Linked DNA regions of Homo sapiens. The gene in region 2 interacts genetically with the main gene of each other region. Each region holds a gene or a part of one and is shown on either strand. Other genes may lie near its edges.

Region 1 (3,500 bases), on a different chromosome or scaffold from region 2:
TGGGTGAGGGTACAGCTGATCTTATTTTTTTTCTAAATATGACAAATAGTAAATTATGGATGATGGTTTTTCTTAATATGTAGCAATAAAATAGAGATTATTTGGTGGGAATAAAATATTTTGTCAGGACAGCAGTTTGTTAGTTACCATGTTTGTAGACTGTTTTGACTCTCTTAAAAGTTATTACACAAAACATTTCCCAGTGGAAGAATTAACAACAAAATTTAGCAGTTTTAGAGCTAATTGGTAAACTCATTATTTTTGTTTAGAGAGATAGTCTCGCTCTGTCACCTAGGCTGGAGTGCAGTGGTGTGATCTCGGCTCGCTGCAACCTCTGCCTCCTGGGTTCAAGTGATTCTCCTGCCTCAGCCTCCTGAGTAGCTGGGATTATAGGCTCCTGCCACCATAGCTGGCTAGTTTTTATATTTTTAGTAGAGATGGGTTCTACCATGTTGGCCAGGCTGGACTTAAACTCCTGACCTCAAGTGACCCACCTGCCTCGGCCTCCCAAAGTGCTGGGATTATAGGCGTGAGCCACTGTGCACGGCCATTAGTGAAATTTTTAACCTTTAAGGTCCTTCTGTAGTTGTAGTTACTACTTTGCAATTTTGGATTCCTAATAGACTTTCATTAATAATGTTTAAATGGCACTTAACACAAGTACTTTTGTGTATATATTATCCATTTGATGTGCATAGGTGTTTCCACCTTGCAGTTGTGGAAATTGAAGCTCAGACTCTGACTTGCCCAGGATTGCATAGCTATCAGGTGGCTTACTGTGGACTCAAGTGCGTGTCTTCTTACCAGATTCATTTGCTTTGTCAAAACAATAAAATAAGAAACCTATCACTTGTAAATAACTAAAATACTTAATATGATACCCTAACTTTTGCATTAAAACAAAAATGACAGCAACGATGGAGGGTATGTTGGTTTGAATAACAAAACCAATAGAGACAGTTTTTGTCCCAGGACTAATTAGGGACCAAGAACATATGGCTAGGCCAAGGTTCTTTAAAGAGTTGTTCATTCCAGCCTAGTTCCTTCCTTTATTTACACAGAACAACAGGGAAGGCAAAAAGGAGAAACAGAAAAAGGAAGGATGAAATTAAACGACTTTTTTCCCCCTTTTCTCCTGGCATCTAGCTGGGAACGACAGAGCTTCTGCTAGTGGGAGTGGAAAAACAGGGGCTTTCCCTGAGGAATGCAAAATGGAAGTGCTCTCTGAAGCAGCTCCAACTTTGGGGATTTACTTGGGGTTTTTCACCCTTCACCCTGGGTGTGAAGCCTGGTATATGAAGTAATAATTAGATGTTTAGACTAATGGTCTCCAGGTTTTTATGATCACTTATTCTTTTTTTTTAATTTTTATTTTTTATTATTATACTTTAAGTTCTAGGGTACATGTGTACAACGTGCAGGTTTGTTACATATGTATTCATGTGCCGTGTTGGTGTGCTGCACCCGTTAACTCGTCATTTACATTAGGTATATCTCCTAACGCTATCCCTCCCTGCTCCCACCACCCCACGACAGGCTCCGGTGTGTGATGTTCCCACCTCGTGTCCAAGTGTTCTCATTGTTCAATTCCCACCTATAAGTGAGAACATGCGGTGTTTGGTTTTTTGTCCTTGTGATAGTTTGCTCAGAATGATGGTTTCCAGCTTCATCCATGTCCCTACAAAGGACATGAACTCATCCTTTTTTATGGATGCATAGTATTCCATGGTGTATATGTGCCACATTTTCTTAATCCAGTCTATCATTGATGGACATTTGGGTTGGTTCCAAGTCTTTGCTATTGTGAATAGTGCTGCAGTAAACATACGTGTGCATGATGATCACTTACTCTTATTGGTAAGAAAGTTGATCATATATCCTTAATGTATGTATACTTGTAAGTTAAATACATGTGCTACTATACTAACATATATTAAATACACATTTAAAAAAAAGATTCAGATTAAAACAGACTGGGAAATAGGAGCCCCCCTCCCTGCCTTTGGAAACTACCAGGGTAGACCACCAATCCCACATAAAGGAGGATTTTCACACAGGAATTCTTGTCCTTCCATTTGTCTATGGGCTCTTTCTCACCCATTTTACTGGACTCTGTTCTCTTATCTGGACAGATGGGTTTTATTTGGTTTTACAGATAATTTTTTCCTTTTGGTCATGATCTCAGCCACAGCTTACTATAATAGTTTGTTCTGTCATGTTCTTAGTATTTGAACATAATCAGTTCTGAGACAGTGCCCCTTAAAGTGAACTTAATTAAAACAAGCAACAACAGTTTGTAGTAGAGTAAAAAATGAAACCTAAACCAGACACGGTAGTACATGCCTTTAGTCTTGGCTACTTGGAGGAAGCTGAGGCAGGAGGATTGTTTGAGCCCAGGAATTTTGAGTCCAGTCTGGGCAGCATAATGAGACCTTGTCTCTTAGGGGAAAAAAAAGAAACTTAAGATTGTAAGTTTATTTTATAACATTAATCGTATTAATGAAATTTAGATTTATGATTGCAACTATGTACTAATTCTTCAAGAATGAAGCACAGTTTTTTTTTTGGAGAGGTATGCGCTTTTTCTGATAAAATTGCTTAATGGCCTAATATAACATGTTCCACTTCACTTTTGGCTTTTTGCAAATTAGGGTTTGAGAACACACAATTCTGTGATTCATTTGGGGCATATTTTAGATTGTAAGGATTCTTTTCTCTGTTGCCCAGGCGAGAGTGCAGTGGTGCAATCGCAGCTCACTGCAATCTTTGCCTCCCGAGCTCCACCCATCCTCCCATCTCAGCCTCCCGAGTAGCAGGGACTACGGGCACATGCCACCACACGAAGCTAATTTTTGTATTTTTTGTAGAGACAGGATTTTGGCATGTTCCCCAGGTTGGTCTGGAACTCCTGGGCTGAAGCCCATATTAGCCTCCCAAAGTGCTGGGATTATATAGGTGTGAGCCACGGTGCCTGACCAGTTCTTTGCTTCTTAACATAGCACTGTCATTGCTGTGGGAACTTGCATAGTAAATACTTGGGTGATACAAACCCTCTGTACATTGCTAGCTAGGTATTTTCAGACTAATATATATAACTTTGTAATTTTCATATAGAACAATCTATATTAATATGCAAATTTCCATAGCATTTTTTAAGTAGGTAGAGTCATTACAAGGTGATGGCAAATTTATACTTTTTCCCCAAGGAAAAAATCTTTTGTACTATAGGGGTTTATATGTTAAATTTTAATTTTGTCCTGTTAAGTATATCTGATGTTTTTCTCCTAGGCTAATCATTTAGTATTGAGTGATGGGTCAGTGTCATGATTTCTGATTTTGGTTTAATAGATTTTAATAGTGAAAGTTAAGATTGCTGGCACGTTTTCTTATATTTTATTTTCAATTAGCTGTAGAAATTCTTGCTGATATAATACAAAACAGCACATTGGGAGAAGCAGAGATTGAACGTGAGCGTGGAGTAATCCTTAGAGAGATGCAGG
Region 2 (3,500 bases):
GCTCACTGCAACCTCAGCCTCCCTGGTTCAAGCAATTCTCCTGGCCTCAGCCTCTTGAGTAGCTGGGACTGTAGGCACATGCCACCACACTCAGTTAATTTTTGTATTTTTAGTAGAGCTGGAGTTTCACCATGTTGGCCAGGCTGGTCTCAAACCCCTAACCTCAAGTGATCTGCCCACCTCACCCTCCCAAAGTGTTGGGATAACAGGCGTGAGTCACTGTTCCCAGATCACTTTTTTGATATAGTTTGTTTCTCTAGAAAGGCAGAAATGTTGATTTTTTTTTTTTTTTTGAGATGGAGTCTCGCTCTGTCACTCAGGCTGGCGTGCAGTGGCACGATCTCAGCTCACTCCAACTTCCGCCTCCCTGGTTCAAGCGATTCTCCTGCCTCAGCCTCCCAAGTAGCTGGGACTACAGGCGTTGTGCCACCACACCCAGTTAATTTTGTATTTTTAGTAGAGACAGAGTTTCACCGTGTTAGCCAGGATGGTCTCAATCTCCTGACTTCGTGATCCGCCCGCCTTAGCCTCCCAGTGTTGGGATTACAGGCATTAGCCACCGTGCCTGGCCAGAAATGTAGATTCTTAAAGGCATTTTTTTAAAGACAGAAATGTAGACTCATAAGTATTTCATATCTCCCTATATAGCTATCATAGGAAGGTATATAATAGCTAGTTATTGAATGAATGGCTATGCTTCAGTGCTTGAAATTTCTTTCCATATTTAAGAAAGTGAAGAAAAGAAAGTACCTTGTTCAAAAGCACTGCTCACATTGTCAGTAAATTCTTTCTGTTTAGCTGAAAAAGAAAACCATTCTGTTAATTTTTCCATTGAAATAGACTCATAATATGAAGACAATACTTAAACTTTGTAATCATGCTGGTTTGAACACAACAAAGGAGGAAGTTTGTATTCAAGGGTAAGGCTTCATAACCTTTGTCTCTGTGTGTACCATGATGGCAGCTGCTGTTTAGCACAACTCTGGTTTACCCTAATAACACTGTTTTTCCAACCATGAAAGGTCTAAGGAGCAATCACCAAGGCTTATAAAATGGCTATAGAATCAGTAAAAAAAAAAAAAAAAAAAAAAAAGACAAAGATATACTTTGATTATCTCCACGAAACAGTTTGGGTCTTCGACATTTCAGCAAGGAGAACATTAACATGCTGGGAACACCTATCAGTAAAGCATTACTGAGTGTTTCCGGCAACCACTTGCAAACTGTATAGCCTCTCAGGAAAATGAAAACATTTACATCATGTTGTGTCATAAGGGAGAAGATGCCAAACAAAATAAAGCAGCAGCTATCTCATATTTCTCGTTTCCTTGTTAGAAAATGAGGAATTTTCCAGTAATCTCATTTTCCAGATATAAATAGTGTCAGTTATTTATATGGTGTCGTCTTTCGAAGCACTGTCAAATACATTATATCCGTAAGGCAGGAAATGACAGGTATTGGGGGAATTGTCCCATGGGTGATGAGTGGAAGAGCTGGGAACAGAATCCAAGTCACTTGACTCCCAGTCCGGTGTTTGAAACTCATCTCTCAGGTAGCAGTGTGGTGTCCACAAAAGAACAACAGACTAGGAACCTGGAGGTTCTTAAGCCCTGACCCTAAAATTAACTAGCTCTATGCCCTTGAACATTAATTTTACCTGGGCCATAGCAGATACCTTACAGGAGAAAATTTAGGAATTAATCTAAATTAAGGTCAGTGAGCTGCTCAAAGTCAAATGTTTACTATAGGGCTAGAATAAGTGTTTTTTTTTTTTTTTTTTTTTTTTTTTTTGAGACAGTTTCGCTCTTGTTGCCCAGGCTGTAGTGCAATGGTGCGATCTCGGCTCACTGCAACCTCCACCTCCTGAGTTCAAGCAATTCTCCTGCCTCAGCCTCTGAAGTTGCTGGGATTATAGGTGTGTGCCACCATGCCCGGCTAATTTTGTATTTTTAGTAGAGACAGGGTTTTGCCATGTTGGTCAGGGTGGTCTTGAACTCCTGACCTCAGGTAATCTGCCCATCTCAGCCTCCCAAAGTAATGGGATTATAGGCATAAGACACCAAACCTGGCCTAGAATACATGCTTTTACGTGCTTTATCTCATTTAACTTGATCCCCACAACCACCAGTACTAATATTATCTCCACGTACAGATGAGGAAATTGAGGCTCAGAGGAATGAAGTCATTTGTTCAAGGTCACGCAAAGTCAGTAGCACGCTGCCCTCACTCCAGATCTTCATGCTGCCCTGACGTCTAAAATTGGGCAGCTGAGCCCACTGACTGCAACTCCTGAGTTTCTCTTATCCCTACAACCCAGTCCTAATGCTGTGAACATATCTCCAAGCTGACGGTCCCCTCACCACAAATTCTATATTACTGCTTTAAACATCTTTTCTCATTACTGTTTGCTCATTTAGTAAATACCAAGTTCCTTTTAAACTATAAGTACTTTTCTGTGAGCTGAGGATGTGAGGGAAGCAAAAAGTAGACATGATTTCTCCTGCAGAACTTCCAGTCTAATGAGGGAGGCTGATATTGATCAATTAATGTCACATAGAACAGTAAAGTTATAACTGTGATTAGTCCTACAAAAGAAATAGCCACTACTAATAGATAGCTTAAAAAGGCTTCTCTGAGGAAGTGATGATTGCCTTCAGATCTGAAGAAGGAGGGGTTAACTTAAATGGGGCGGAGGAGAGGAGGGTTTCAGGCAGAAGCAACAGGCCCTAGGGTAGGAGGGTGCCCAGTATAGATGAGGAACTGGAAGTGGTCATTGTGGCTGGAGTGGAGAAGGCAAAACAGAGAGAAGCAGAGGCCACGGCATCCGGGCCCTGTAAGGGATGCTAAAGAGTTTTAGAGCAGTGAGAAGCCACTTAAAAGTTTTTTTTTTTTTTCTTTGAGACGTGTTTTCGCTCTGTTGCTGAAACTGGAGTGCAATGGTGCAAACACGGTTCACTGCAGTCTCCACCTCCTGGGCTCAAGTGATCCTTCTGCTTCAGCCTCTCGAGTAGCAGGGACTACAGGCATGCGCCACCACATCTGGTTAATTTTTAAATTTTTAATGGAGATGGGGGTCTTGCTATGTTGACTAGGCTAGTCTTGAACTCCTGGGCTCAAGTGATCCTTCCACTTCAGCCTCCCAAAGTGCTTGGATTACAGGCGTAAGCCATCACACCTGGTCAATTGAAATAAGGCCAAGAGTAGTGATTAGATTTGGGTTTTGGCCGGGCTTGGTGGCTCACACCTGTAATCCCAGCACTTTGGGAGGCTGAGATGGATGGATCACCTGAGGTCAGGAGTTTGAGACCAGCCTGGGCAACATGGTAAAACCCCGTCACTACTTAAAAAAAATAGAAAAATTAGCCAAGCATGGTGGCACGCACCTGTAGTCCCAGCTACTTGGGAGGCAGAGGCAGGAGAATAGCTGGAACCTGGGAGGCGGAGGTTGCAGTGAGCCGAGATCATGCCAGTGCACTCCAGCCTGGGCAACAGAGCAAGAC
Region 3 (6,391 bases), on a different chromosome or scaffold from region 2:
TGTCACTGGGCAGCGGGGTAGAAATAGAGTGGAAACTTACATCAAAATTTTGATTAAATGATAAATGCATAATTGATCATTTAATTATTGTTATACAATTGTTATAAAATTAATATCATTTATTGCTGTATTGTTGTCAGTGTTATCTTAAAGATTTTGCTTTTTCAAAGAAAAGTATGTTCTTTCCCATATTGTAAAATAAGGTATATAATAAGAGATAAAATTGCCCATTCTGTATACGATTCTTATGCTTTACATTGTCCCCATTTTAATTATACAAAACCACATCTAATAAAAACGTCAAGACAGATATCTACAATCCCACATGTTAAATAATTTTTCCTTTTTCCTTTGAATCTCTGTTCTTTCATGTACATAATTTTTACATTATTGGGATAATTTTAAATTCTGTTTTTACTTGTGAGCATTTTTTTTCTTGGTGCTCAGTCTTGACCAAAATTAGGTCTTTTAATTACTTAAGATTTTAGTAATGTTAATAGGTATATATAGTTACCTGCAAAATGTGATATTTTTGTTGTTTTGATTTTCTCCTTCCTTTCCTGAAATCCATCTCCCTGAAGTCCTCATCTGTGCTCTCTTGACTCCCTTGTAGGATTTGCCACTAGTGAGTAAAGATACTTTTCAAGTCTTTATTTAATGTCATTTGGTCTTCACAGTAATCCGGTTAGGTAGATGAACATTTCTTTGTAGTAGCAATGGCCTCTTCTGTCCTTTTCAGTCCCTTAACTTCTGCCCTAGTTTTAGACCCTTATTACTTTATGCATGGGTTTTGTCCCTGCTTTCAGGGACTTGCCCTTTCAATCCATCCTATACAGCACATCTAGATTATTCTTCCTAAGGCATGACTTTTATCCCATCACTTCCCTGCATAAACTTCAGTGGGCTTTATATCTTAGCCTTAAAAATTTCCACCTAACTAGATTGCTAGCCATATTGTAAACTGTTTCTCTACAAATACCCTGTCCCTCCAGTCACCCTATATTGTTCCCTGTTCCTTGGACCATGTGCTTTTTTGTGTCTGTTCTTTTTTTTATGCCACACCCTATGTCTGAAATGCCCTCTCTCTAACTGGTGCCTATTTTTCAAATGTTAGTTCAAAGGTCAGTCCGTTCCCTGAAACCATTCCTTATAAGCTAATAAGACTTTGATTTCTCCCTCCTCTGAACTCCTACAACACTTTTTCCTACAAGTAGTTATGTATCTTGTGGAGGAGATAAGATTTTATGTGCCTAAAATGCTAATATATTCCAATCATCTTTTTGTTTTTATCTTCCACAGAGCTAGGCACGGTATGTTACATGTAATAGGTAATCAGAAAATATATGTAAAATGAATGATTAAACTCTATAACCAAACCAAAGCAAAAATCTAACATAATAATTAATAATATTTGCTCCACTGCTATACATTTGGAATTGAAAGCTAACTTTCTTCAGGGCAACCTCATAAGTTTGTCCGTTGCATTTCTGTCATTAGGCATATGGTACCGTGGTGGAGTAGCATCACTGATTGTTGTCAGTTTTAGTTCAATAACCAAAGCACACTTACTTTTTATCCTAAAATTTTTGAGTTACTTTATTTGTGAGCATCATTTGCTAAGATAAAGTGACTTACAGGATAACATTCTTTGAGGAATAAGATATAAAAATTTGCTGTTTGTAGAAATTTTAACTGCACACTGTATTTTGGGATGTTCATTAGTCCTCTGATTAAGTTTTCTTTACAATATCTAGAGAGGGATGGATATTAAAGTAGGGAAACCGCATCCTAAGGGTATAGTTCCTTAGGTGCTGATGTTTTGGGAGAGCAACTTTTAAACTTCTGCTTTTCAAAGCATATTAGAAAAAGACAAGGTGAAGCTTCGATTTTGGTTTACTTATAAAATTGTTTTTACTGATCTTGAGTAACTTATACTATAATATTGTAATATATTCATATTTTTGAGTGCATGAATGTTTGCTAAGTATGAACTCTTTCTTCAACTACTCTGACTGTAGTGACTTAATAACTGTGCATGTACATGTGTGCTTGCCTGCTACGTTTGCCATAACACCACAGATTGGGTGGCTTATACAACAGAAATGTATTTTCTCACAGTTCTGGAACCCATGAAGTCCAAGATGAAGGTGTCAGTAGAGTTGATTTCTTCTGAGGTCTCTCTCCTTGGCATGTAGATGGCCATCTTATACCTCTGTCTTCACACTGTCTTTTCCACTGTTTGTGTCTGTGTCCTGATATCCTCTTCTTAGAAGTATACTGGTCATATTGGATTAAGGCCCACCTTAATGACCTCATTGAACTTTAATTACCTCTTTAAGGGCCCTGTTTCCAAATATAGTCACATTCTGAAGTATTAGAGGTTAGGACTTCAACATATAAATTTGTGGGGGTGGGGAGTACACAGTTCAGACCATAACAATGTGTGTATGTGTTTGTATGTGTGTGTATGTATATGCAAATACATAGAAAATTGGAAAGATATACTCCAGTCTGGTAAAAGTGGTTACCTCGGGGGTTGGGGGGGGGTTTGGGATGCTAAAAAACAAACAAAAAAAATTTAATTTGCTATTATGGATACACAGACATAGTTTGATATACTGTACTTGTTTTTACAATGAGAAAAATATTTCATGTTTAAGCTTTTCAATTGATGAACTGACCTTTTTGAGTAGGTTATATTATGTTCATTTATTTGAAGTCCAATTTGTTTTGTCTGCTAGTAGTAATGCATTTTATCATCTCTGTAACTTTTATTTTATTTGTTTATTTTTTATTTTTTATTTTTTTGCGATGGAGTTGTGCTCTGTCACCCAGGTTGGAATGCAGTGGCACAATCTTGGCTCACTGCCACCTCTGCCTCCCAGGTTCAAGCGATTCTCCTGCCTCAGCCTCCCAAGTAGCTGGGATTACAGGCGCACACCACCACACCTGGCTAATTTTTGTATTTTTAGTAGAGATAGGGTTTCGCCATGTTGGCCAGGCTAGTCTCGAACTCCTGACCTCAGGTGATCCGCCCACCTCGGCCTTCCAAAGTGCTGGGATTACAGGCCTGAGCCACCACGCCTGGCCTTGTAACTTTTATTTTAAGTTCAGGAGTACATGTGCAGGTTTGTTACATAGGTAAACTTATGTCATGGAGGTTTGTTGTACAAATTATTTTATCACCCAGGTATTAAGCCTAGTAGCCATTAGTTATTTTTTCTGATCCTCTCCCTTCTTCCACCTTCCACCCTCTGATAGGCCCCAGTGTGTGTTGTTTCCTTGTATGTGTCTATGTGTTCTCATCATTTAGCTCCTACTTGTAAGTGAGAACATGTAGTACTTAGTTTTCTGTTCCTGTGTTAATTTGCTAAGGATAATGGCCTCCAGCTCCAGCCATGTCACTGCAAAGGACGTGATTTTGTTCTTTTTTATGGCTGCATAGTATTCCATGATATATTTGTACCACATTTTCTTTATCTAGTCTGTCATTGATAGGCATTTAGGTTGATTCCATGTGTTTGCTATTGTGAATGGTACTGCAATGAACATACGCATGCATGTGTCTTTATAATAGAATGATTTATATTCCTTGGGGTACATACCCAGTAATAGGATTGCTGGGTCAAATGGTAATTCTGTTTTTCATTCTTTGAGGAATTGCCACACTGCTCTCCACAGTAGTTGAACTAATTTACACTCCCACCAACAGTGCATATAAGTGTTCCTTTTTCTTCATAACCTCACCAGCATCTGTTATTTTTTGACTTTTTAATACTAGCCATTCTGACTGGTGTTAGGTGGTGTTTTGTTGTGATTTTGATTTGCATTTCTCTAATGATTAGTGATGTTGAGCATTTTTTTTTTTGTGTGCTTGTTGGCTGCATGTATGTCTTCTTTGGAAAAGTGTTTTTTTCATATACTTTGTCCACTTTATGTTTTTTTTTCTTGTAAATTTGTTTAAGTTCCTTATAGATGCTGGATATTATTAGAGCTTTGTTGGACGCATAATTTGCAAAAATTTTCTCCCATTCTATAGGTTGTCTGCTTACTCTGTTGACAGTTTCTTTTGCTATGCAGAAGTTCTTTAGTTTAATTAGACCTCATTTGTCAATTTTTACTTTTGTTGCAGTTGCTTTTGTTGTTTTTGTCATGAAATCTTTTCCCGTGTCTCTGTCCTGAATGGTATTACTTAGGTTGTCTTCCATGGTTTTTATACTTTTGGATTTTACATGTAAGTCTTTAATCCATCTTGAGTTAATTTTTGTTTATGGTATAAGGAAGGCTCCAGTTTCAATCTTCGGCCTGTGGCTAGCCAGTTATCCCAGCACCATTTATTGAATAAGGACTCCTTTCCCCATTGCTTGTTTTTGTCAGGTTTGTTGAAGATGATATGGTTGTAGGTGTTAGGCCTTATTTCTGGAGTCTCTATTCTGTTCCATTGGTCTGTGTGTCTGTTTTTGTACCAGTACCATGCGGTTTTGGTTACTGTAGCCTTGTAGTATAGTTTGAAATCAGGTAATGTGATACCTCCAGCTTCATTCTTTTTTCTTAGGATTGCCTTGGCTATTTGGATTCTTTTTTGTTTCCATTTGGATTTTAAAATAGTTGTCTCTAGTTCTGTGAACAATGTCAATTACCATTGACATTTAATAGGAGTAGCATTGAATCTATAAATTGCTTTGGGCAGTATGACCATTCTGACTATATTGATTCTTCCTATCCATGAGCATGAAATGTTTTTCCATTTGTTTGTGTCATCTCTGATTTCTTTGATTAGCGGTTTGTAGTTCTCCTTGTAGAGATCTTTCACCTCCTTATAGTTAGCTGTATTCCTAGGTATTTTATTTTCTCTGTGGCAATTGTAAATGAAAGTTTGTTCCTCATTGGTGCTTGGCTTGATGGTTGTCGGTGTATAGGAATGCTAGTGATTTTTGTTTTTATTTTTTTATCTTTTTATTTTAATTTTTATTTTTTTAGAGCCGGCCTTGACTCACTGCTAGTGATTTTTGCACATTGATTTTGTGTCCTGAGACTTTGCTGAAGTTGTTTATCAGATTAAAAAGCTTTTGGGCTGACACTATGGAGTTTTCTAGATACAGGATCATGCCATCTGCCAACAGGGATAGTTTGACTTCTTCTCTTCCTATTTGGATGCCCTGTATTTCTTTCTCTTACCTGATTGCCCTGGCCAGAACTTCCAATACTGTGTTGAATAGGAGTGGTGAGAGAGGGCATCCTTGTCTTGTGCTGGTTGTCAGGGGAATGCTTCCAGCTTTTCCTCATTCAGTATGATGTTGTGATGTTGGCTGTGGGTTTGTCACATACGGCTCTTCATATTTTGAGGTATGTTCCTTCAATATCTAGTTTATTGAGAGTTTTTAACATGAATAGATGTTGAATTTTATTGAAAGCCTTTTCTGTATCTATTGAGATAATCATGTGGTTTTTGTCTTTACTTCTGTTTATGTGATGAATCACATTTATTGATTTGGGTGTGTTGAACCAACCTTGAGTCCTGGGGATAAAGCCTACTTGATTGTGGTGGATAAGCTTTTTGATGTGCTGATGGATTTGGTTTGCCAGTATTTTGTTGAGGATTTTTGCGTTAGTGTTCATTAAGGATATTGGCCTGAAGTTTTTTTTGGTGTTGTGTCTCTGCCAAGTTTTGGTATGAGGATGATGCTGGTCTCAGAATGAGTTAGGGAGGAGTTCCTTCTCAATTTTTTGGAATAGTTTCAGTATGAATGGTACCAGCTCTTTGTACATTTGGTAGAATTCAGCTGTGAATCTGTCTCGTCGTGGGCTTTTTGTGGTTGGTAGGCTGTTTATTACTGCCTCAAGTAAAGAACTCATTATTGGTCTGTTCAGGGATTCAATTTCTTCCTGGTTCATGGAGATCCTCCCATACTCTGAGCGATCACTCCTGCTTGTGGGACATAGAGAAGACACCAATATCTGAGATGGCCAGCACCCCATCCCAGAATAAAAAAGTCTTTAATGCATTTATAAAGCATTCCTGGAAGTATTTGCTGCTTTTAAATGTAACCAGTTTTTGGTTGTTACTTCATTGCGGAATTGGGAGATTCTTTGGAAATTGAGTCCTAGTGTTTCCTATTCATTTCAGTGGTTTCTCCTCTTGCTGTGCATATTTGATTCTGCATATTTGATTCTGCCTAATAAAGAGCTATTTATACTTAGGTTTCTTTTTTTCAAAATCAAGTTTTTATATTAAAAAAAATTACAAAAACAGTACAAACCCACTACTGAAAGATTAGAAAATACAGAAAAGCCAAAAAAAAAAAAAGCAGCTATGCTAATAGGTCAGTATAACCTATACTTTTAATAATACCAGCTAATATTTTTATAGTGTTTTAGTTTACAAAATGCT
Region 4 (3,500 bases), on a different chromosome or scaffold from region 2:
AAGTGATCCACCTGCCTTGGTCTCCCAATGTGCTGTGTACTCAGTGGACCTTTTCAGTCTGGAAACTCATGTTTCTAGGACATTTTCCTGAATGCTTTGATATTTTTCTTTTTCTTTTTTACTCTTTTTTCTCTTTTTGGAAATCCTGGCTGCTGGTACTTTGGGAACCAAGTAGGAGAAGAGGACCAAGGGCTCAATCTTTAATATTTCCTTTACTGAATCACCTTTGTGCCTGGGGGTTCCAGTCCAGAGACCTACTGTTTTATTGTCTGCTAGGGTAAACCTCCAGTCCTCCACCTGGAGGAACAGGGGAGGAGTAGGTCACTGGTGCAGCAGAGGGGTAAGGAATATGGGACTCTGACTGCTTCTTAAGTAGATTTTCAACCCACCTTCACCCCCACTTCCAGAGGTACCTGGTGCCATCAGTTCCTGAGTCCTGAGTACTTTGTAGTTTCTGCAGTGCAGCTTGGTAGCTTTTGTGCTTTCCCTCTACTGGTTTAGAATTCAGTTTCCTTAAGCCTGATACATCAGTTACTTGTTCCTTTGTTTTCCAGCTTTCACAATGTGTTCTGTGTTCTTCTCATTTTCTTTGTCTTTATGGGAGAGAGAGTGGGGATTGAGTTAAATGTATGTGTTCAATCTGCCTCCTTTAACTAAAAGTCCTTGGATCCCTTTCATGTGCATTTTTTTCCATGGTTGAGATCCTGCTGTTCTTCCAGTTTGATATTCAGTTTTTTCACTTAATTTTATAACAAACAATTTCACCGTCATTAAAAATCATTTCTGAATGTTATTTCAATAGCTAAAGTTGCATCATATGGACATGCCACTATTTATACTGTTTGCTTTATTAGTCTGCTATTGTTGAGTATATAGACTGTTTTTTGGTTTTTATAAATAATGCAAAAATAAATAAAGTCATAATATTTTTCTGATAATTCTGATTATTCATTAGGCTAAAGCACGATTTGGCAAACTAGGACTCAGAGTCCACCCCTGGCCCCTTGGCTTGCCATGAACTAAAAATGTTCCATACTTTTTTTTTTTTTTTTTTTAAAGTGACAGGGTCTTACTCTGTTCAGGCTGGAGTGTACTAGCTGTGATCATAGCATAGTGCAATCTTAGACTCCTGGGCTCAAGCAATTCTCCCACTTCTGCCTCCCGAGTAGGTAGAACTATAGGCATGTACCACCATGCCCAGCTAATTTTTAAAAAATTTTTTGTAGAGAGAGAGTCTTGCTATATTGCCCAGGCTGGTCTTGAACTCCTGGTCTTAAGCAATCCTCTCACCTCGGTCTCCCATAGTGCTGGGATTGCAGGAGTGAGCCACCTCCCCAGAGGTTTCTTACATTTTTCAAGAATTGTAATAAAATGAAGAAGAATGTGCAGTAGACCACATGTGGCCTGCAACACCTAAAATATTTATCTGGCCCTTTACAAAATATTTTGCTGACCCCTGGGCTAGAGATTTAGGTAAATACTAAACCATTAAGTAATAATTATAGTATACTCCAGAAAGTTAAAGTATACCTCATGGCTTGCTAGTTTGGATAACTGGTATGTGTGTGACTGCATACTTTTTTTTTTTTTTTAATGCACTTACAAATATATACATGTGTGTCTAGATATTTAGTTTTTTTTTTTTTTTAAATAGGCTTCCTCTATACTCATAGAACCACCACTTAAAACAATATAGAACAGACATCCTACCGTGTTTCTTACATGAGGATCTATCTCATTCTTTTTAATGGCTGCATAGTATTCAATAGTATGGATTTACCATAATTCATGTAATCATTACCAAATTGAGGATATTTGAGTTATCTCCAGCTTTTCACAATTAAAGTAATGCTGTAGTTAACATGCTTTTACATTTATCCCTGCACATTTGTTCAAGTATTTTTGATAATTTTCCAGAAGAAAATTGTTGTGTCAAAGTATATGTACAAAATACATGCTAATTTGCTTTCTAATTTACCCTGAGAGTACCCCTTTTCCATATCTTTTCTAATACTAGATATTATTTGTCTAACTTTTAGCAATTTCTTAATTTTAATTTCCTAATCATTAGTGATGTTGAACGTCTTTTCATGTGCTTACTAGCCATTTACAGTTCTGTAGATTGCCTGTTATAGACATTTCTAAGGCTCTTGACAAGTACAACCATATTTTTTCAAAAAAACAGTTGCTCTCATTTGTATTTCCCCAGGATTGTACAAGAGTGTCTTTGTCACTACATATAAAATTTTGGAAACATTTTGATCTCAAAACTTCTCTCTTTTACTAAACGGTGTTTTGTTAGGCAATTTTCGTTCTGCTCTCAATGATGTGACAGCTGCCAGAAAGCTAAAACCCTGCCACCTCAAAGCAATAATAAGAGGTAAGTCTTGTGGAACTACAGTATGACATTTAAAGCTTTGATATGAAGGTGCTAGGATACTAATAAAGTCATCTTATTTTTGCAGTCTGGGTATTAAGTTCCTGTTCCTTATCAACAGCAACATGCCACTTTTAAAAGAATTCCTCAGAGAGTGACTTAACCCTTTATGTAATAATAATTTGTAGAGAACTAGAAGCCCCTCATTTTAAATTAATAAAAAATAAAATTAATTAAAACAAAGCAGTTGCAAAGCCATATTCTGATTTTTTTTCCAAATTAGCTGATTGAAAGGCAAGGTCTTCAAATGCCATGTTAATGTTAATTAAAAGATAAGTTATGGGACCTTTGCTGATGACTTTGGTGCTGAGATGTTCTCAGATTATGTTTTCTCTTGTAGTCTGACCTTTCTATGTAATAACAGTGCTTTTATTACTTTTATACTTCACCTTTTCTTTGAGAAGCTCATAGGTGCTTTGCAAACTTTAATTTATTCATCACATATTAATCTTCCCTGCATCCCCATGGACCAGCTTAAAATGCTTTTTCAAAATTATGCCTCTTTAAATGTTCATGGTTAAGGGCAGTAGGAAGATCCATGTCCCTCAGCTGTAGGAAAAGAAGGTACTGAACAAAGATTGGCTGATAAATTGAATCTAGGTAATCCTGTGGAATTTGCCTCAGGCTAGAAGTGTGTAATCCTTGATTCAGTTGTTGGTTTAATTTACAATGTGACCTTGGCAAGACACCCACTTTGAATATCAGTTTGCTCATCTCTAGAAGATGGGGTTAGAATCTGTTGGCATCTAAGCCCTTACAATGCTTATATTTTGAAATTCTGTGGAAAACCTAAAGAGGCTAACTGGAGAAAAATGTACATGATAACATGAAATTTTTTTTTTTTTTTTTGATGGGGGAGAGGCAGCTTAAACTGGTAGCCATAAAGAACAAAATTAGGAGACACCTAATGTTTTTGGCCTTGCCACTGCCTTGATGAATAGCTGAAGCAAAGTCTGCTTTTTCCCTCCATTGAAAAAATCATCTGGGATGGACTTTATTCTTCCTGTTTGCAGATGAGGAACCTAAAGCTTGGATATGCTTGGTCCTTTGTCTAAGGTCTAGC
Region 5 (6,391 bases), on a different chromosome or scaffold from region 2:
CAGTTGAACCTCTGGAGCAGGGAGGGCCCGGCTGTGCGTGCATTAGGGAGGTGGGGGTGGGGGCGTAGAAACCAAAGAAGTTAGACCAAAACGGGCCCACAGCTGGGGCAAATGTGGGCATAAAAATGAATAAATTCCATCTGATCACATAATCTCAAATATATACATATACAGAAATATTTCTGTGAGGTCAGAGTGGTACTAAAAAACAAAACAAGACTGGGGAAAAAAAAAAAAAAGAAGAAAAGAAAGAACTCTCTTCTCCATGTTGGGCGCAGTGGCTCACACCTGTAATCCCAGCACTTTGGGAGGTCAAGGTGGGCAGACTGAACTCAGAAGTTCAAGACCAGCCTGGGCAACATGGCGAGACTCTGTCTCTACAAAAAAATATAAGCACTAGCTGGGCATGGTGGCGTGCGCCTGTAGTCCCAGCTACTCAGGAGGCTGAGGTGGCCCAGGAGGCTGAGGCTGCAGTAAGACAAGATCATGCCACTGTACTCCAGCCTGGGGGACAGAACCAGACCCTGTCTTTAAAAAAAAAAAAAAAAAAAAACAAGACAGCCTCTTCTGTCACCATTAAAAGTAGTTCCTGCACCACCCCTCCTCCTCAAACTGGACTTCCCAGGGAGAGCAGCCGGCCCTGCCTTTTCCACAGAACCATATTTCAAGATAACCCGATAGCCCAGCTGATGTGGAGCTCTTCTTTGAAGAAGTCCAGCAAACAAATGAAGAAGTTACAGAACTAGAAAACTTCGCAAACTCTAATAAAGTAATTGATTCAGGCAATAATCCTCAATGAATATGAAAACCATTAATAGGTTGATGAGGAACTCATTATCACAGGACACCAGAAACTCAAGCCCACCAGATGGTCTGTGGCTGAAGGGAAAAAGCAGATCTTCCCAAGGCAGTGGCTGACTCTCAGCATGGACCCCGCTGGTGTGAGATCCCCAGTGGAGGCGAGCAGACCTCACATGATGGTAGGATGTGGCCGTCTATGGAGAGCTCCCCATGAGGGACTCTGCTTACAAAGGCACAGCCTGACTCAAACTAAGTCTTTGGATCTAAGTTCCAGTGCTCAGGAAACACAGGAACATGGCACCCAACACCAGGCGGGAACAGCCAGGCCACCTGGAAAGTGAGTGCGCCAGAAAGAAACTGGGCCTGCACACTCCTCTGCCGTCCCCTAGAGGGTGCCCAGGAGAAACCCGGGCCGACCAGGTGTGACCTGTGGGACCCCGTGCAACAAACACTTTGGGGCCAACTAGAAAATCTGAATATGGAATAAGAAATAGGCAGTTTTAAGAAAGTATGTTTTATTCTATTAAAACTGAAAATGGCATTAGCTCATGTAAGAAAAAATCCTCACGTTTTAGGGTCACAAATTCAAACATTTACGGGCAAATGATCATGACGTCTATAATTTACTTCCAAAAACTTCAGCAAGGGAAAGGATATCTATTACATGATAAGTGTTTAGGGGCTCATTATTCTAGTATCTCTACTTTTCTGTATGCTTCAAGTTTTCATAATTATTTTTACATAAAATAATCTTGCAAATATGTTTTTACATTAGCATTCATATGTAAATACAATTAGTGTTTTATATAAGATATATGACTATATTATTATTATAATGACCTTGTATTAGTGACATAAGAACAAGCAATGTATCAGAAAGTGAGGATGTAATTAAGGTTCAGTAACTGCATCCACTATTGGAAGAGCACTTCTCCGTGCCAAGGAGAGGGCTTCAAGCTTCACACCCCGTGTCAAGGTGGGCACCATCCATGCACCCCCACTTTCCACGCAACCAAGCTAGATGTGAGGCAACAGGCTGCGGGGCCAGGACCCTCCTCTGGGGGACTCTAAACGCTGTGTTTGTAACCACCATGCTGAGCCTCCTGAGGGCTATCATTGTAAATGTCCAAAATCAATGTCCAAGTAAGATAGGCAAACTTAGGCCAAGAATCTTACCTAGACTTAGATATTTCTTAAGCATTGCTAAATGTGAGAGAAGCCATGCCATAAACTGTTAAGAACACAAACAAGTCAACTTTTCACAATCCACCATCAAACTTTTCCAACAAAATATTACCTAGCATTGCTTGGGTGATAGTGAGTGGCATGAAACTGCTTAAGCTGCTCCCATGTAAGCTCCGGGATGCACAGTGGGTCACCCCCGGAGACCACTGAGTACGTGTGGTCAGGAAGAAGTCTGTTCTGAAGGTGCTGGGAGAATATCCTCTCATTGTCTGTCTTGAAACGTAAAATAAATAAATCATAAGTATACATGTAAAATAATACACACGTTACATTACTTACAATATAGCCAATTGATCACATTCTGGTGCATACACCTGTAATACTTTGCAAATAAAGCTGTTCTAATGGTTTAAAAAAAAAAAAAAAACACCCACGCAGGCATTGTTTAACACGGTATTCAATCATTCATCACCCACGCACAGGACCCAAGGATTGAGAAGAACAATGGATTTTTTGATGTGTGGTGCAACAAACGCATAGCTGAGGGCTGTAAATCGGGATGGATCAGTCGGTCTGCCCACCAGCCGTGAGGGAAGTGGGGAGAAGCTGTCACCCCAACTTGAGTTCAAGAAGACTCCTTGGAAGAAAAGACCACCAAATTGAGAATGAAAAGGTAAGAAATAGTTCACCAGCCGAGAGGAGCTACGGGAATCAGAGAGCAGGCCACCCATGAGCCTCAGGGACACCAGGACAGACAGGTTGTCCAAGTCACAAAGGGACATGAAGACATGGGCCCAGGACAGCAGCTCTTAATCCAAAATGGTCTCAAGAATCCTTTACACTCTGAAAAATTAACCCATTTATGCCTGAGGTTGCAATTTTTTTGTAAAAAATCAGACCTTGGCGATGACCTTGAGCTGTAGGACATAAATAACTCCCACAAGCTTAGGGTGCCAATAATGGAACACTAGGCATAAATGCGTTTTAATGAGGACCCAAACAGCTTTTGATTATGTGGGCGTTTTTGCCTGTGTAGGTGCCTGTGTGTGTTTATATAATTTTTCTATATTCTAAATTAAAGCTGAGACATTTAAAAAATACTTATTCATTAAGGTAAGCCATCATTACATGTTGATATAAATATTTTTGAAAAATACTTCTCATAACAAAGTAAAAAACTGATTAGAGTGGTGCTGTGTTGCCTTTTTTGCAAATCTCTGTAGCGTCTGGCTCAGAGGTGAAGCTGGACTCCCCCATTTGCTCTGTATGCAGCTCGCTGTGTGTCACACACCTTGCCATGCAGCCTCTAGAAAGTACACCGTGTACTTGGGCAAGAATGAATGAAAAGACACTGTCTTGGTAGTGGTATGAAAATAGCTTTTATCTCACAGACTTGCTGCAGATCACATACCAGGGGTCCCCAGACATGGTCTGAGACCTGCTGGGAAGAACAGCAGCCTGGCCCTGCTACCCCGACTTCTGCTCACAGCACTGACCCCAGCTAATTCAAGAATGTATCACCTATAATGAGAATATTAAATAAAATCTTCCAGATGTGTCTATATCATGATATTGTACATGGGAAAGGTAAGCTGAACACAACATAAAAAAGGAAGAAAACTTACAAACGCTCCCTTCATCTCATTAAAGACGACTCCTTTAAAGACCAAGGGCGTCTGGGGGTCGCTCGGATTCTCATGTTCCAGCCGCCATCCTTCCTGCCTGAGGACAAATCATTATAAGCTGATAGTGACTCAAATACTAAAGTCTGTATCAACTAGTTAATCATTCATGACATACCAGAAATCCAGCTCGCGTAAACATGGGAAAAAGGTGGCATCCAAATACACCGAGAGGAGATTCTGAAAGTCCTTGGGATTTTGTGTGGAAAATGGATACAGAGTATAATCACTAGCTGGGTACAAATGAAAAGTGAAATTGTAAAATATAACAGATTTCTACTAAAATTATTGACTCTCAAGACTCATTCCCCCTTTGTCCTAGGACAGTAAGCTGTAGCTATTCTTGGGATGGGGCAGTGGCCCCATGCTCTGGTCCCTGGCCTCAGCAGCTGTCCCAGCTCATAACCCCAAGTGCCGGCTTTCCCATCCCGTCTCAGGATCTGCACTCGACGGGCACCAGGGCTTTCTTCAGCGAATATCTAAACTCTCTCAAGTTTCTCCAGAGACTTTCATACATCTACAAAGATGACCTCATTCTGTAACAGCATGGATTTAACCCGCTCTTCAATGTCACTCCCCCACAGAATGCACTGTTCATCGTCACCCTATCCACTATCGTCAGTCTTACTAAAAGTCAAACATCAACATTAGTAGTAACTCTGGCATTGTAGCGATATCTCCAAGAGAAAATTGTTTTGAACTTTTCTGGGAAAAGTTCACATATGTTTTCTTAAAACGCTAGTTTTTACAATCTCGCTACCATGTGGCTTTCCTGAAGGATTAAATTTCTAATGTCCTTCAACTAGAGAGAGGTAAAAATTTTTCTAGAACATGAATTGCCCACTCCCCTCATTCCTTCTCAGAAACTAACTGAATTCCAGTGGGTGTGCCTGGCAAACCCAAAAGCAGTTTCTGTTCAGGATGCTGGTCTTACCTGTGAAGGCGTTCATGAACGTGGAGAGGGACCGGTTCAACATTTTGAAGAAAGGGTCTCTGCACGGATATTTCTGAGACCCACAAAGGACGGTATGCTCAAGAATGTGAGGAACACCAGTACTGTCCATGGGAGTAGTACGGAACTGCACGCTAGGGAAGGAGAATGACCAGAACGCAAAAGGTTCAGCTTAGTGCTGCGGACACAGTTCCCAGATGCATCATCACCTCAGGCTACTAGAAATCATCATTCTGACACCACAATCCTCCAGCACAGGGTTTTCCAACTATAATGTAAATCATTGACTCAGACTGTAAAATTGTATTTTGATGAGATTATAAGTCAGTGTAAACTTTTCCTTATTTTTCAAGATGCTCTGTCAATAAAAATACTAGTGAGATGATATTTTAAACCACGTAATGTATAGCCATGTTTTAAATCAAGCTTGTCCAACCCGCAGCCTGCAGCCCGCATGCTCAGGATGGCTTGAAATGCAGCCCAACACAAATTCATACACTTTCTTAAAACATTGAGGGGTCCTTTATTTATTATTTTTAGCTCATCAGCTGTCCTTAGTGTTAGTGTATTTTATGCGTGGCCTAAGACAGTTGTTCTTCTTCCATTGTGGCACAGGGAAGCCAAAAGAATGGACATTCCTGATTTAAATAAAAACATTCAAGACCATGTTCTTACAATGCACCACACACCTGAACAGATTATTCGTGTCTTCTCTGGCCAGGTGTAAATACCTGGCTCCTGTGTCATCATGGGTGAGCTTCACTGCAGTCAGGAACAGCTCGGGAACAGATGTCACCTGAGTTAACAAGAAAAACACGACCAGTTAAACTTAGACAAAATGGCCTTTGAAATGGTTATGTTCGACACACTGAGAAAACTGGCTTTTCTGCCTGAAATTAGATGATGCCGGGAAGGCAGTATTTCAGAGCTGGAGAGAAGAGAACCATCTTGTCCAGGTCCCTTATCCTACAAACAAGGAAAGACAGACCTAAAAAAGGCAGATGAGAATATGTGTGTGTGTGTATAGAAAGAGAGAGAGAGCGAGCGAGCGAGCGAGCGCGAGAGCGCACGCGCTTACTACTGGCTAGGTATTTTAGATTTTTTTATTTTTTAAATTTTTTATTCTTTTTTTGGCTAGGCATTTTCTAATCATGTCACATATAATCCTGTGAGGGAGGTATTCTCATACTCATTTACAGACGAAAAAACCGAGGCTCAGGGTGATGAAATAAGCTGCCTAAATCACAGAGCCAGGATTCACCCTGGTGTCTGCCCTTCCCATGGTACCATGCTGCACCTAAGTAACAGAGCGCCCTTTCCAATGTCTGCTGAGTGTCTCCTGCTTTTGTGTGCTGTGCCTCAGTAACACAGCGCCCCTTCCAATGTCTGCTGAGTGTCTCCTGCTTTTGTGTGCTGCGCCTCAGTAACACAGCACCCCTTCCAACGTTGGCTGTGTGTCTGTTTCTGTGCATATCATCTCCTGTAGTGCGCAGAACGGGCCTGCAAGGAGGGGAAATGCTAGAGTGGGCTAGCCTGCGACAGCAGGGAGAGGCTCTAGGATCAGCCTTTGCTTCTCTTAGTTTAGGATGGGTTCTCGGTGGTAGCTAGAAGCACAAAGCTGTGGCTTCCAGAACAGCTGGAGGGGCCGGGAGGATAGAAATGCCCACAAGACAGACGAAAGACTCCCCACTCCTGGGGCGGCGTGGAAGGTCATCTCCTACTTTAGGTAAGCCTCCTGGTAAGTGACCATACTCCTCGGTATGAAAGAAAC

The links.
Region 1: changes in HSCB (region 2) and PMPCB together harm fitness less than expected from each alone (positive genetic interaction), as found in Homo sapiens cells (one large-scale study listed by BioGRID).
Region 3: changes in HSCB (region 2) and ABCB7 together harm fitness more than expected from each alone (negative genetic interaction), as found in Homo sapiens cells (one large-scale study listed by BioGRID).
Region 4: changes in HSCB (region 2) and TTC4 together harm fitness less than expected from each alone (positive genetic interaction), as found in Homo sapiens cells (one large-scale study listed by BioGRID).
Region 5: changes in HSCB (region 2) and PITRM1 together harm fitness less than expected from each alone (positive genetic interaction), as found in Homo sapiens cells (one large-scale study listed by BioGRID).

Annotation. Positions count from the first base shown.
Region 1 is NC_000007.14:103,300,435-103,303,934, forward strand, and holds part of PMPCB (mitochondrial-processing peptidase subunit beta isoform 1 precursor), read left to right. Parts: intron 1-3,407; coding exon 3,408-3,500. UniProt on the Homo sapiens protein: Catalytic subunit of the essential mitochondrial processing protease (MPP), which cleaves the mitochondrial sequence off newly imported precursors proteins. Preferentially, cleaves after an arginine at position P2.
Region 2 is NC_000022.11:28,748,539-28,752,038, reverse strand, and holds part of HSCB (iron-sulfur cluster co-chaperone protein HscB isoform 1 precursor), read right to left. Parts: intron 799-3,500; coding exon 751-798; intron 1-750.
Region 3 is NC_000023.11:75,144,533-75,150,923, reverse strand, and holds part of ABCB7 (iron-sulfur clusters transporter ABCB7, mitochondrial), read left to right. Parts: intron 1-6,391. UniProt on the Homo sapiens protein: Exports glutathione-coordinated iron-sulfur clusters such as [2Fe-2S]-(GS)4 cluster from the mitochondria to the cytosol in an ATP-dependent manner allowing the assembly of the cytosolic iron-sulfur (Fe/S) cluster-containing proteins and participates in iron homeostasis.
Region 4 is NC_000001.11:54,718,861-54,722,360, forward strand, and holds part of TTC4 (tetratricopeptide repeat protein 4), read left to right. Parts: intron 1-2,302; coding exon 2,303-2,380; intron 2,381-3,500.
Region 5 is NC_000010.11:3,161,627-3,168,017, forward strand, and holds part of PITRM1 (presequence protease, mitochondrial isoform 2 precursor), read right to left. Parts: intron 5,417-6,391; coding exon 5,310-5,416; intron 4,755-5,309; coding exon 4,603-4,754; intron 3,902-4,602; coding exon 3,787-3,901; intron 3,709-3,786; coding exon 3,612-3,708; intron 2,260-3,611; coding exon 2,099-2,259; intron 1-2,098. UniProt on the Homo sapiens protein: Metalloendopeptidase of the mitochondrial matrix that functions in peptide cleavage and degradation rather than in protein processing. Has an ATP-independent activity. Specifically cleaves peptides in the range of 5 to 65 residues.